Regions from separate parts of the Homo sapiens genome. Here region 1 is linked to region 2. Evidence: fine-mapped expression QTL. A gene starts in region 2. The other region holds a variant in brackets. All regions are shown on one strand. Distances are from middle to middle.

Evidence for each region. PIP is the estimated chance that this variant, and not a neighbour inherited with it, causes the effect.
Region 1: its variant is fine-mapped to the expression of MYO9B in breast (GTEx, PIP 0.95). The same link has a PIP of 0.9 or more in fibroblasts.

Annotation. Positions count from the first base shown.
Region 1 is chr19:17,105,873-17,111,237 of GRCh38, forward strand. The region is part of intron 2 of MYO9B (myosin IXB); the gene reads left to right. Among named protein-coding and RNA genes, the nearest start is that of SNORA118, 16 kb to the left of the region's middle. RefSeq lists enhancers at 2,378-2,427, 4,460-4,569, 4,533-5,034. The variant G/A (reference allele first, on the strand shown) is at 2,423.
Region 2 is chr19:17,073,416-17,078,756 of GRCh38, forward strand. It overlaps MYO9B (myosin IXB), which reads left to right and starts at 2,362. Exons shown (of 40, transcript NM_004145.4): 1 at 2,362-2,459. It overlaps HAUS8 (HAUS augmin like complex subunit 8), which reads right to left and starts at 2,037. Exons shown (of 11, transcript NM_033417.2): 1 at 1,979-2,037. The coding sequence starts at 2,007. RefSeq lists an enhancer at 1,780-1,979 and silencers at 2,160-2,509, 2,504-2,798.

The DNA.
Region 1 (5,365 bases), 32 kb after region 2:
ACACAGAGATTCATTGTCATTGTTTACATCAGCTTTTAATAAAACTGCTGAGCAATTTCACCATAGAATGTCCATTTTCTTTCCTTTCCCATCCCCTCCCCTCCCCTCCTCTCCCCTCCCCTCTCCTCGCCTCTCCTCTATTCCTTTCTTGTCAGGGTCTCTCTCCGTTACCTAGAATGGAGTGCAGTGGCACAATCATAACTCACCGCAGCCTCGAGAACTTCTGGGCTCAAGCGATCCTCCCACCCAAGTAGCTGGAATTCCAGGTGTGCACCACCATGCCCGGCTAATTTTTAAATTTTCTGTAGAGACACAGTCTTACTATGTTCTCCAGGCTGGTCTCGAACTCCTGGCTTCCAGTGATCCTCCCACCTCAGCTGTTTTTAATATGGCTTGTCTTGTGTGCATTACATTATATACCCAGACCGCCCGTTCATTGCTGTGTGAGCATTTGCTGTGTGGCAGGCTATGATATAGGTGCTGGGCTATGTGGTGGCCAAAGTCAACACAAAATTCTCCCCAGGTAGAACTCGGGGAAGACTCTGGGTGACACAGGAGCTATAGAGGTTCTGAGCAGAGGTAGATGCAACCCAGCTCTGGTCTCCCGAGGCCGCCCTGGCGTCATCCCAGCTCTGAGACTCAGCCACAGTGAAACTGCCAGTGGCCCCAGTGTCCTCCCAGCAGGTGGCCAGGGGGCTCAACGGCTCTCCAGGCCAAAACATCAGTGCCTGGCATCCACACCCGAGATAAAACAGTGATCTTGAAAATTCAGCATGTGTGGCACACACCTGTAATCCCAGAGTCAGGAGGCTGAGTCCTGAGTCAGGAGGATTGCGTGAGCCTAGGAATTCCAGACCAGCCTGGGTAACATTGCAAGACCCCATCTCTACCAAAAAGTTTAAAAACTAGGCTGGGTGCAGTGGCTCATGCCTGTAATCCCAACACTTTGGGAGGCCAAGGCAGGTGGATCACCTGAGGTCAAGAGTTCGAGACCAGCCTGGCAAACATGGTGAAACCCCGTCTCTACTAAAAATACAAAAATTAGCCAGGTGTGGTGGCGAGCGCCTATAATCCCAGGTACTTCGGAGGCTGAGGCAGGAGAATGGCTTGAACTTGGGAGGTGGAGGTTGCAGTGAGCCAATATCGCACCATTGCACTCCAGCCTGGGCAACAAGAGCGAAATCTGTCTCAAAATTAAAAATAAAAATAAAAAATTAGCCAGGCATGGCAGTGCATGCCTGTGGTCTCAGCTCTCAGGAGCTTGAAGTGGGAGGATTGCTTGAGCCCAGAAGTTCAAGACTGCAGTGAGCTGTGATCACACACTGCACTCCAGCCTGGGTGACAGAGCAAGACCCTGTCTCAAAAAAATAACAAAAAAAATTTAGTAGGTGAATGAATGAGAGGGTAGATCCAACATTTACCATGTCAGACATTTTGCCAAATGGGACTAGGCAGGTGGGTAAATGCCTGAGCCCCGCAGAAATGACACGCCCAGCCCCAGGGTCTCAAAGTGGCACGGCCAGGAGGCAGGATTGCCACCTAGGTCTCAGTTCAGGGTCCATGTCCTCCCCACCACGTTGCTGCCTCCACAGCGCCATCTCACTAGGACCCTCCAGGGCGTGGACAAGTTTCCTGTTGCTAAGTGTTAGGGGCAAGGGAGTCTCCAACAACAGGGATTAAGGCTCTCATGGTCCTGGAGGCCAGAAGTCTGAAATCAAGGTGTCCACGGGGCCGCACTCCCTCCCGGCTCTGGGGGAGGATGCTTCAGGCCTCTTCAGCTTCTCTGGTGGCTGCAGATGTGCCCTGGCCTGTGGCCACGTCACATCAGTCTCTGCCTCTGTCGTCAGGGGCGTTCTTCCTGTGTGTCCATGTCTTCACGTGGCTTTCTTATAACAAGGACACCACTCATGGGATGTAGGGCCCATCCTACCCCGGCATGACCTCATCCTACCTAATTGCATTTGCAAAGACCCTATTTCCAAATAAGGTCACATACACAGTTTCTGGGGGTGAGGATGTGGATATAATTTTGGGGGCGGGGGGCTCAAGTCAGCCCACAGCATCCCCCATACAGCCCCACCTGGTCTGCTTCAAGTCCTACCTGGCCCCTGGCAAGTCCCACTTGGTGACATCTTGTGCCTGGGTCCTTGAGGGCTGCCCCAGATCCGCGATTGTCCTGGGGACCGGTAGTTCCTCCCCGGATGCCAGCAAAGCTCCCTCCAGCCTCCACGCCTGCACAGTCTCCAGTATGCCTTCAACAGCCATTAGTCACCCTCTGTGAGTCAGACCCCCGGTCCTGCCAGGCCAACCTGCTTGGGGCCTCAGCAGCGGGGGCTGGCGAGGCCAGTTTTCTCCAGCGGTTCTAAGCCGCTCGAGGGTGGTGCCCACGCCGGCTTCCAAAACAGGCTTGAGCCAAATCCAC[G/A]TCATGGCAATAAACGTGCTTCCTGGGGCGACTGTTTGCAAAGGGATGTGATTGTCTTCACTGAGAGCTGGATTTCTCAACCTGGCTCTGCTGACATTCAGGGCCGGATCGTTCTCTGGGGAGGGAGTCATCCTGTGCATTGAAGGACATTGAGCAGCATCCCTGGCCTCCACCCACCAGATGCCAGGAGCACTCCCCACCCCGCAGGTGTGACACCCAGAAGTGTCCCCAGACATTTCATTGATTAGAGAGGTATTAACAAAATAGCTTCCCGTTGTCCCCTGGGGACAAATCACCCCCTGGGAATAGAACAGCTGTCTTTGAGTTCTTCCCATAAGACCCAATCACTGTTCATTGCAGCCACTGAGCTTTTAGAAATTATCTGTGAGTTCTTTCTGTTCTGTGCTAACTTAAGAGTCATTTTCTTTTTTTCTTTTTTTGAGATAGAGTCTTGCTCTATCGCCCAGGCTGGAGTGCAGTGGCACGATCTCGGCTCACTGGAACCTCTGCCTCCTGGGTTTGATTCTCCTGCCTCAGCCCTCCCGAGTAGCTGGGACTACAGGCGCCCACCACCGTGCCCGGCTAATGTTTGTATTTTTAGTAGAGACGGGTTTCACCATAGTGGCCAGGCTGGTCTCAAACTCCTGACCTCAAGTAATCTGCCCTCCTCAGCCTCCCAAAGTGCTGGGATTATAGGCGTGAGCCACCATGCCTGGCCCCAAGAATCTTTTTTTTAATTTTATTTATTTATTTATTTATTTATTTATTTATTTATTTATTTATTTATTTTGAAACAGAGTTTCTCTCTGTCTCCGGGCTGGAGTGCAGTGGCGCGATCTCGGCTCACTGCAAGTTCTGCCTCCCGGGTTCGTGCCATTCTCCTGCCTCAGCCTCCTGAGTAGCTGGGACTACAGGTGCTCACCACCACACCCAGCTAATTTTTTGTATTTTTAGTAGAGATGGGGTTTCACCGTGTTAGCCAGAATGGTCTCGATCTCCTGACCTCGTGGTCCGCCCACCTCAGCCTCCCAAAGTGCTGGGATTACAAGCATGAGCCACTGCGCCCGGCCATCATTTTCTAATAAGAGGAATAAGACCTCAGGCCCACTGGGTATCAGGGTTTGGGCTTCGTGATTTTCCTCCATCATCTCTAATCCCTCACGGCAGCTCTGCCCATTTTAAAGATGAGGAAACTGAGCCCCAGAGAGACACGTGGATGTGTGAGTTTCCTGAGGTGTCTATAACAAAGTATTACGGGCTGGGAGCCCTCAAACAGCAGGGGTTGATTCTCTCACAGTTCTGGAGGCCAGAAGTTGAAAATCAAGGTGTGGGCAGGGCTGGGTCCCTCTGGAGGCTCTGAGGGAGAATCTGTCCCAGGCCTCTCTCCCGGGTTCTGGTGGCTTCAGCCATCCTTGGAGCTCTGGGCTTGTGGCCGCATCACTCTGCCCTCTCCCTCCGTCGTCACCTGGTCTTCTCCCCTGTGTGTGTCCAATCTCCCTTGCCTTTCTCTCATGGGATCACCTCATCTCAAAATACTTACCTTCATGACATCTGCCAAGACCCCGTTTCCAGATAAAGCCACAGTCACAGGTTCTGGGGGTAAGGACTTAGACATGTCTTTTTTGGGAAGCCACAAGTCAACCCACTGCAGGTAGATTCCCCAGGCCACACCGCAGAGAGCCAAAGCCTAACCCGGGGTTTGAACCCGGCCTGAGCCCCAGCCCCCCGTTCAGGCTGCCTCTCTGCTCTCCCCTCTCTCGCCCGGGCTGCAGAAAGCCGGAGATCAGCACAACTCGCTGCATCGATTGGGGATTTTTTCTCAGCTCCCCGAAAGGAGAAGTTGAGCTGTTTTGAGGTTTGAGTGTCGCTGGATGCACCCCCTGACCCCCGCCCCCCGCGAGGGTTGCAGCCTCGCTGTGTAATGCTGACCAAAAAACAGGAAGGGAGCACTGTGGAAAGCCGGTTCCAATCAGCTGATCTGCCCGCCACTGCAGTTAACTGTTGCCATCACCTTTCACCAAGTCTAGGGGCTGCAGAAGCCATGAGTCTCCCCATCTTCCACATGGCCTCTAGCCTCCCAGTGCAGGCGCCCGTCGACAGCCCAGGGGCTGTGGATAGAGCACCTTACAGCATCGGCCATGGGGTCTCGCCGCAAAGCACACCCAGAACACGCTCCTCTCCCTTTGCCCACAGCCTCAGATCCACCAGGCACTCGCCTCGGTGCCCTTCTGAGAGCAGGCTGAGTCCAGGGGGCCAAAGGCTGGGGTTCCCTTCATCTGTCCTGAACTGTAGCAAGTGCAGCTGGCAGCTGGCAGCGTGCATGGGGTTTTCATTCTGAAAGCAGAAATAAAATAAGGATCCTTGCTTGTCAGGCTGTTGTCCCAAGGGTCCCTGGACTCCATGGAGCCCCTGTGGCCCGGCCCACAGTGGGACACGGTGACAGTGATGGGCTGCAGGGCGCAGAGGGACGCCCCCAGCTGGTGGAGCCAAGCTCACCCGAAGTTGTGCCGATGCCCAGGACATTCCAGTGAGGGACTGAGGAAGGGTCCTGAACGTGCCACTGCCCCAGACCCCCCTCTTGGGGCAAAGGAACCTAGGACTCGTACCCACCTGGACCGGGTCCTGAGCTCCTCCTTAGGGGCCCTACAAACCCAGTCTCATGTTTCCCCCAACTCCCCCAGCCCCTCTGCCATCAGCCAGGCCACTAGCTCTGTTCCCCCACCCACAGTCAGCACTGGGGTAGGTCACCTAGACCACAGTGCCATTATCCACTTCGACCTCTGCCCTCAAGGACACCTGCCTGGGCCACGTCCTTTCCCCCTGAGTCTGTCGGGCAAGACACAGTTGGATGCCAGCCTCCACCCAGCATTGGGGGCGTCATCTCATACGTCCTCACCACATCCTGATGTGGGCAGACTGACCACCCCCACCTGACATGTGAGG
Region 2 (5,341 bases):
GAAGCTCAGACAGCCCAGTCCAAGGGCTGCCAGAGGACAATTTCAGTGAGGGTGGGCCACCTCAACAGGAAAAGGGACACAAGGAGCAGCCAGCCCTGGTCACCTGGGCAAGAAGGCATAGGTGAACACCCAAACTGAGAAGAGAGGAGGGTAATGAGAGCTCTGTGGAAGAGATCACAGCAGATCTCAAATTATCCCTGGGTTCATTCATTCACCAGACATTGATGCACCTACTATATTCCAGTAGAGACACAGTGGTAACAAAACACAGAGCTCCTTCCCAGAAAGGGAAGAACAACATCTTGACAGGCAGGTACGAGGAGTGGTCCCAGCAGGTACCTCACTTTGGGAGGCTGAGGCTGGCGGATCACGAGGTCAGGAGATCGAGACCATCCTGGCTAACATGGTGAAACCCCATCTCTACTAAAAATACAAAAATGAGCTGGGGTGGTGGCATGCGCCTGTAGTCCCTCCTACTCAGGAGACTGACACAGGAGAACTGCTTGAACCCGGGAGGCACAGGTTGCAGTGAGCCAAGATCACGCCATTGCACTCCAGCCAGGGTGACAGTGAGACTCCGTCTCAATAAATAAATAAATAAAAATAAAAATAAAAATAAAAATAGAATGAAGCCTGATGTAATAGGAAAGAAGGGACCCTGAGATAGGAATCGCTGACTCATCAGCTGTGGGGGTGCAGGAGAGGGAGAATCTGGGATGACTAGGGGTTTCAGGGTTTCAGCCTGAGCTGGTGAGAAAAGAAGGGATCCAAGAACAGACACCAGCAACACAGGAGGGGCAAGTGGATGGGCAAGTGGAGGGGCAGGGCCAAGGCCAGGGCACTGTAACTCCTGCTCCCATCACCAAAGGCGGCTCCACTGGTCCCTGCGGCCACCTCCTCTGAAGCAGGCTCCCAGGACCCCAAAGTGAGACCCAGACAATGTTGGGGACACTTCCAGGCCACCGTGGGGAGAGGCAACTTAGCAAATGTTCGCCAGGTGCCAGCAGCTGCGCTCGCCCGTAGGCTCCTCCTAACCCGACAGCTTCCTAACTGTTCACACCTGCTTTTTCGTCGCTGCAAAACAAAGACGCACAGGTTTTACATAGGTCACCCCCGGGGCAGTCTCACAGCCAGAAAGAGACAAGAGCACAGACTCCCTCTGGGGACTGTGCTAGGGCTGTGGCCTCAAACCGAATGGGCTCCTGGGTGAACCTGCTGCGACCTGAGGGGGGTCCCTACAACCTGTGCGAGCCTCAGCTACTGCACCTGTACCTGGGAGGTGCTACTGTCAATCTATCGGTTACGGCAAGGGGCGGTGGAGTGATTCCTCTTGCTGGCCAATTTCACTTCAGTTTGCACCTGGCACAATCAACACTGGCAGAATTAACAAAACTAGACAAATATAGCCTCATGATCATTCATGCCTAGCTCTCGGTCAGTATTCAACTTCTTTCTTGTTCATGGTGTGTTACCCTAGGCAAGTCACTTCCCCTCCCTGGGTCTCCATCATCTCCTCAGTAAACTGGGAGCACAGAATAAAGCGCGTGGGAGGATTAAAGGGGACACTTTGGTCGCCCAACACTTGTTCACTGCATAACGATAATTCCAAGAGCGACATCACAGTAAAGACCCAGGCGCCGATCTAAGCGCGTTTCAGCCTCACGCGACGCCTACGAGGTTGAGCTGCGTCATCGGCCCCATTTCGTAGCGGAGGAAAGCGAGGCACTGGGCGGTCAGGCCGCTTGCCGGAGGTCGCCCAGCGTCCCAGCCGAGGACGCGGAACTCAGGGCCGGTCGGGTGTCAGCGCTCCGGAGCATGCGCAGAGGCAGCACGCCATCGGGGTCTTCAGGGGCCCGCGCAGTTCCTGGCGGGGTCGAACCCGAACTCACCCCGAGGGTCCTAACTCCCCACCTCCGCTGCCCATCCTCTCCAGCCCTATGGCGTCTACAAATCCAGACCTGCGGAAGCCCCAACTCACCCAGCGCCTCGCCCCGAGGAATCCGCCATTTTCCCGCCTTCCACCTCAAGGCCCGACCCGCCGGCTTTTCAAAGCCGGACCCGCCCCCTTGCTTGCGGGTCGGACCATTTGTGGAGACGCAGGAGGGGTGGCTGCGAGGCGTGAGGCAGCGCCGGCTAAGTGTGGAGAGCGCGGCCCCAGACGCGCGCTTCGCCTGTCCTCCCCTCGCACTTGGTCTCGCCCACCATCGGCGGTAGTGGGTAGGGGCGGTGGGTGGGACCTGATCTGTCGGACAGTAGGGGCGGGGCTTTTCGCGATGCCCCGCCCCTAGGAGCGCTGGCGTCACGCCCCCGTCCCCGCCTCTCCGGAACCCGGAAGCGGGAGCGCGCGGGGGAGCGGCGGGCGCGGCGGGGCGGAGCGGCTCGAGCAGCGGCGGGCTGGCAGGCGGTCGTCCGGCCGGGGACCCGGCCCGGGACCGGCGGCGCGCGGCGGCCGAGGCCAGGTGAGTACCAGGCAGCCTCGGGTTGGCGACTCGAGCTCGAAGCCTGCCTTTGGGGGCTGCGCAGAAGAGGGACGGAGCTGAGGGCTGATGGGGGACGCGACGGCAGGGGTCGAGGGGGCGGGAACGAGCCTGGGGGTCTTGGAGAGATTGCTGGGGATGAGGTGGAAGCGAGACGGTGAAGGAGAAAGTGGATGGGGATGGAGCTGGTGAGGGAGTTCGAGGGCGTGGGGGGGGTGAGTCTTGTGGCTTTGAGCAGCTTCTCTGAAGAGGACGTGGCTTAAGTGGTAATTGGGGGGTCGCAGGAAACGGCGTTGTGGGGAGGCACGGAGGCGGGAACGAGAGGCCCAGGCTGGGGGAGTGGGCAAGGCCAGGGGCGGGACAGCCGGGGTGCGGTTGAGGGGAAGGGGTGCGAGACCGATCTGGGGACGTCTGCCCGCGCGATTGAAGGAAGGGTGTCTGAGAAGAGGGCGGCGCCTGGCCCCCAGTGGGCGCTCAGTAAATGCGGGGGGTTCTGAACTAACTGATGCGGCAGCCGGCTATTGGGAAGCGGGGAAATGGGAGCTGGAAGGGAAGTAAACGGAGTAGAAGTCACGGTAAGAACTGAGGGTAGGCTTAGGGAGGGAGGGCCCGGAGAGGAGGGAAGAGAAGGAAGGGGTTAGAGTGGCCCCGTGCAGATAGATGTTGAGATGCAGCCCCTGGAGATTCCGTCCCCCCACCCTCCCCTCTTGATTCGTGTCCCTCCTGACTTCACACTTAACAGCTGGGTGACCTGGGACGAGTCCCAACACCCTCTGTGCCAGTGTCCTCGTCTTGGAAACTTCACCACCCTCCCCTTAAGACAGGACTAGCAGGATTCTGGGATTCCCTGGATCCAAGGAAGGGACCTCAGGGCCGGTTGTGGGGCCGGAACTGTGTTTCAGGAGGGAGTGTGCATGCACCCTCATGTACAGGACTGTCGCCACCTCCGCAGAGCTGCATCCTTGGACTTAAATGGGTAAAACGACATACAGGAAATCTGTCCCCCGGTTGCTCTGAGCTCAGCCCTGGAGAGGCACGACAGCCACGAGCCCTCCTTTCTTTCCTGGGCACCCTGGAGGCCAGGGGTCTTTAAGGGATGGCTTCTCTGCCTCTTTGTCTGAGGTGGGAGCCCGTGGGGACACTTTCCAGCCAGAGAGTCCCAACTCGGTTTGTTTTTTGATGTTGGAGTCTTCAGAATCTTAAGGTGTCCAGGAGCAGCCGGAGGTGACCTGGGCTACAGGAAAGTTATTCACATCTGACAGGCCTGGCTCTTGTGGCCCTGGCAGGGACTTTGTGCAGGGTGCTTTTGATTGGCATTCATTTCTCCCCTTTCCCAACTGTAGGGATCTTTATCTGGGATCTGCCAGAAGGGCTGGGGAACCCCAGCTTATGTTTAGTTTATAGCTCATTCAGGAGATGAACCCGGATAGCTGGAATATAAAGAGGGCCACAGAAAGATAAGCACCCCCTTCACTTCCAGAATATCCTGGCCTTTAGGAAAGGTGGCTTTGGCCTGGCTTGCCCCAGGACATGCAGTGACAGCCCACAGTCATGCCTCCTGCAAACATTGAACTGTAGGCTTGCACTGGCCTACAGAACAGGACCGGGATCTTCTGATCCCGCAGCCCTGCAATCGCCTCTTCCCTGCCGCTAGAGAATGGCCAAGCAGGGTCTTGTGGGGGGAGCACTGTGTTGGAGATCCTGGCTTTGGTCAAGTCTCTGTGCCTGTTTCTGACCTCTCACCTGCAAAATGAATGAATTGACCTCCATCAGCGTTTTTCAACCTTGAAACCCAACTCTTCTCATCACCGTCTTGTCTCCAGTCCATGTCCCCCAGCTCCCGGCCTTGAACTCCTCACAGCACCCCCACTCTCCATTCCTGGCTGCGATGATCCTACTTTTATTCCGTTTTCCATTCGACAGTTTGTATCCAAAAATGATTTTTTTTCAACCGCTTCTTCATCGTCCAAATAGAAAATTGCGGTGTTGAAGGTGCTTTTGCACATTGCACCTATTCCCAAAGCTTTGGAAACTGCAAATTTCTGGAAATCCCGAGGCAGTACCGTCCCTCGGGTCCAGTCTGGTGACTCAGTGGAGCAGGTAGAGACGTGGGAATCTCCCCTTTCTGTTTGGCTGTAGGATTCGTTATTCTCTCCCCACATGGACTTGTTAACTTGCTGCTTCCCATTCCTCATCTCTTCCAAATGGTGTGTCTTGGGTGGGCCTAGATTTCAGTTAGGCAAGGGTTGATTGTGCCAGACACTTGGTAGATTCCTGGGGACAGAGGTGAATCCTTATGACCCAGAGGACGGACACGCTAATGCCCGCCCCCGACAACTTTGCACTTCCTCTTCAGAAAGAATGGAGTTCAAGCTGGGCCGCGGTGGCTCAGGCCTGTAATCCCTTTGGGAGGCCAAGGTGGGTGGATCACAAGGTCAGGAGTTCAAGACCAGCCTGACCAATATGGAGAAACCCTGTCTCCACTAAAAATACAAAAATTAGCCCGGCGTGGTGATGTGCGCCTGTAGTCCCAGCTACTCTGGAGGCTGAGACAGGAGAATTGCTTGAACCCAGGAGGCGGAGTTTGCAGCCAGCCAAGATTGCGCCATTGCACTCCAGTCTGGGTGACAGAGCAAGATGCCCTCAAAAATAATAATAATTAAAAAAAAGAATGGAATTCAGATCAGGTCATCAGTACGGTGACAGAGGGGCCACAAGATATTATGGGGGGAGAATTAGGGACAACCAATGCAAGCTTTAGGACAAGGGGGATTCCAGCAAGTTTCCTCGGAAGTAGTGGCTGGCCCCAGGTCAAACCTGGAAAGATACCACGTGTTAAACCACTCCGGGTGGAAGGGATTGCA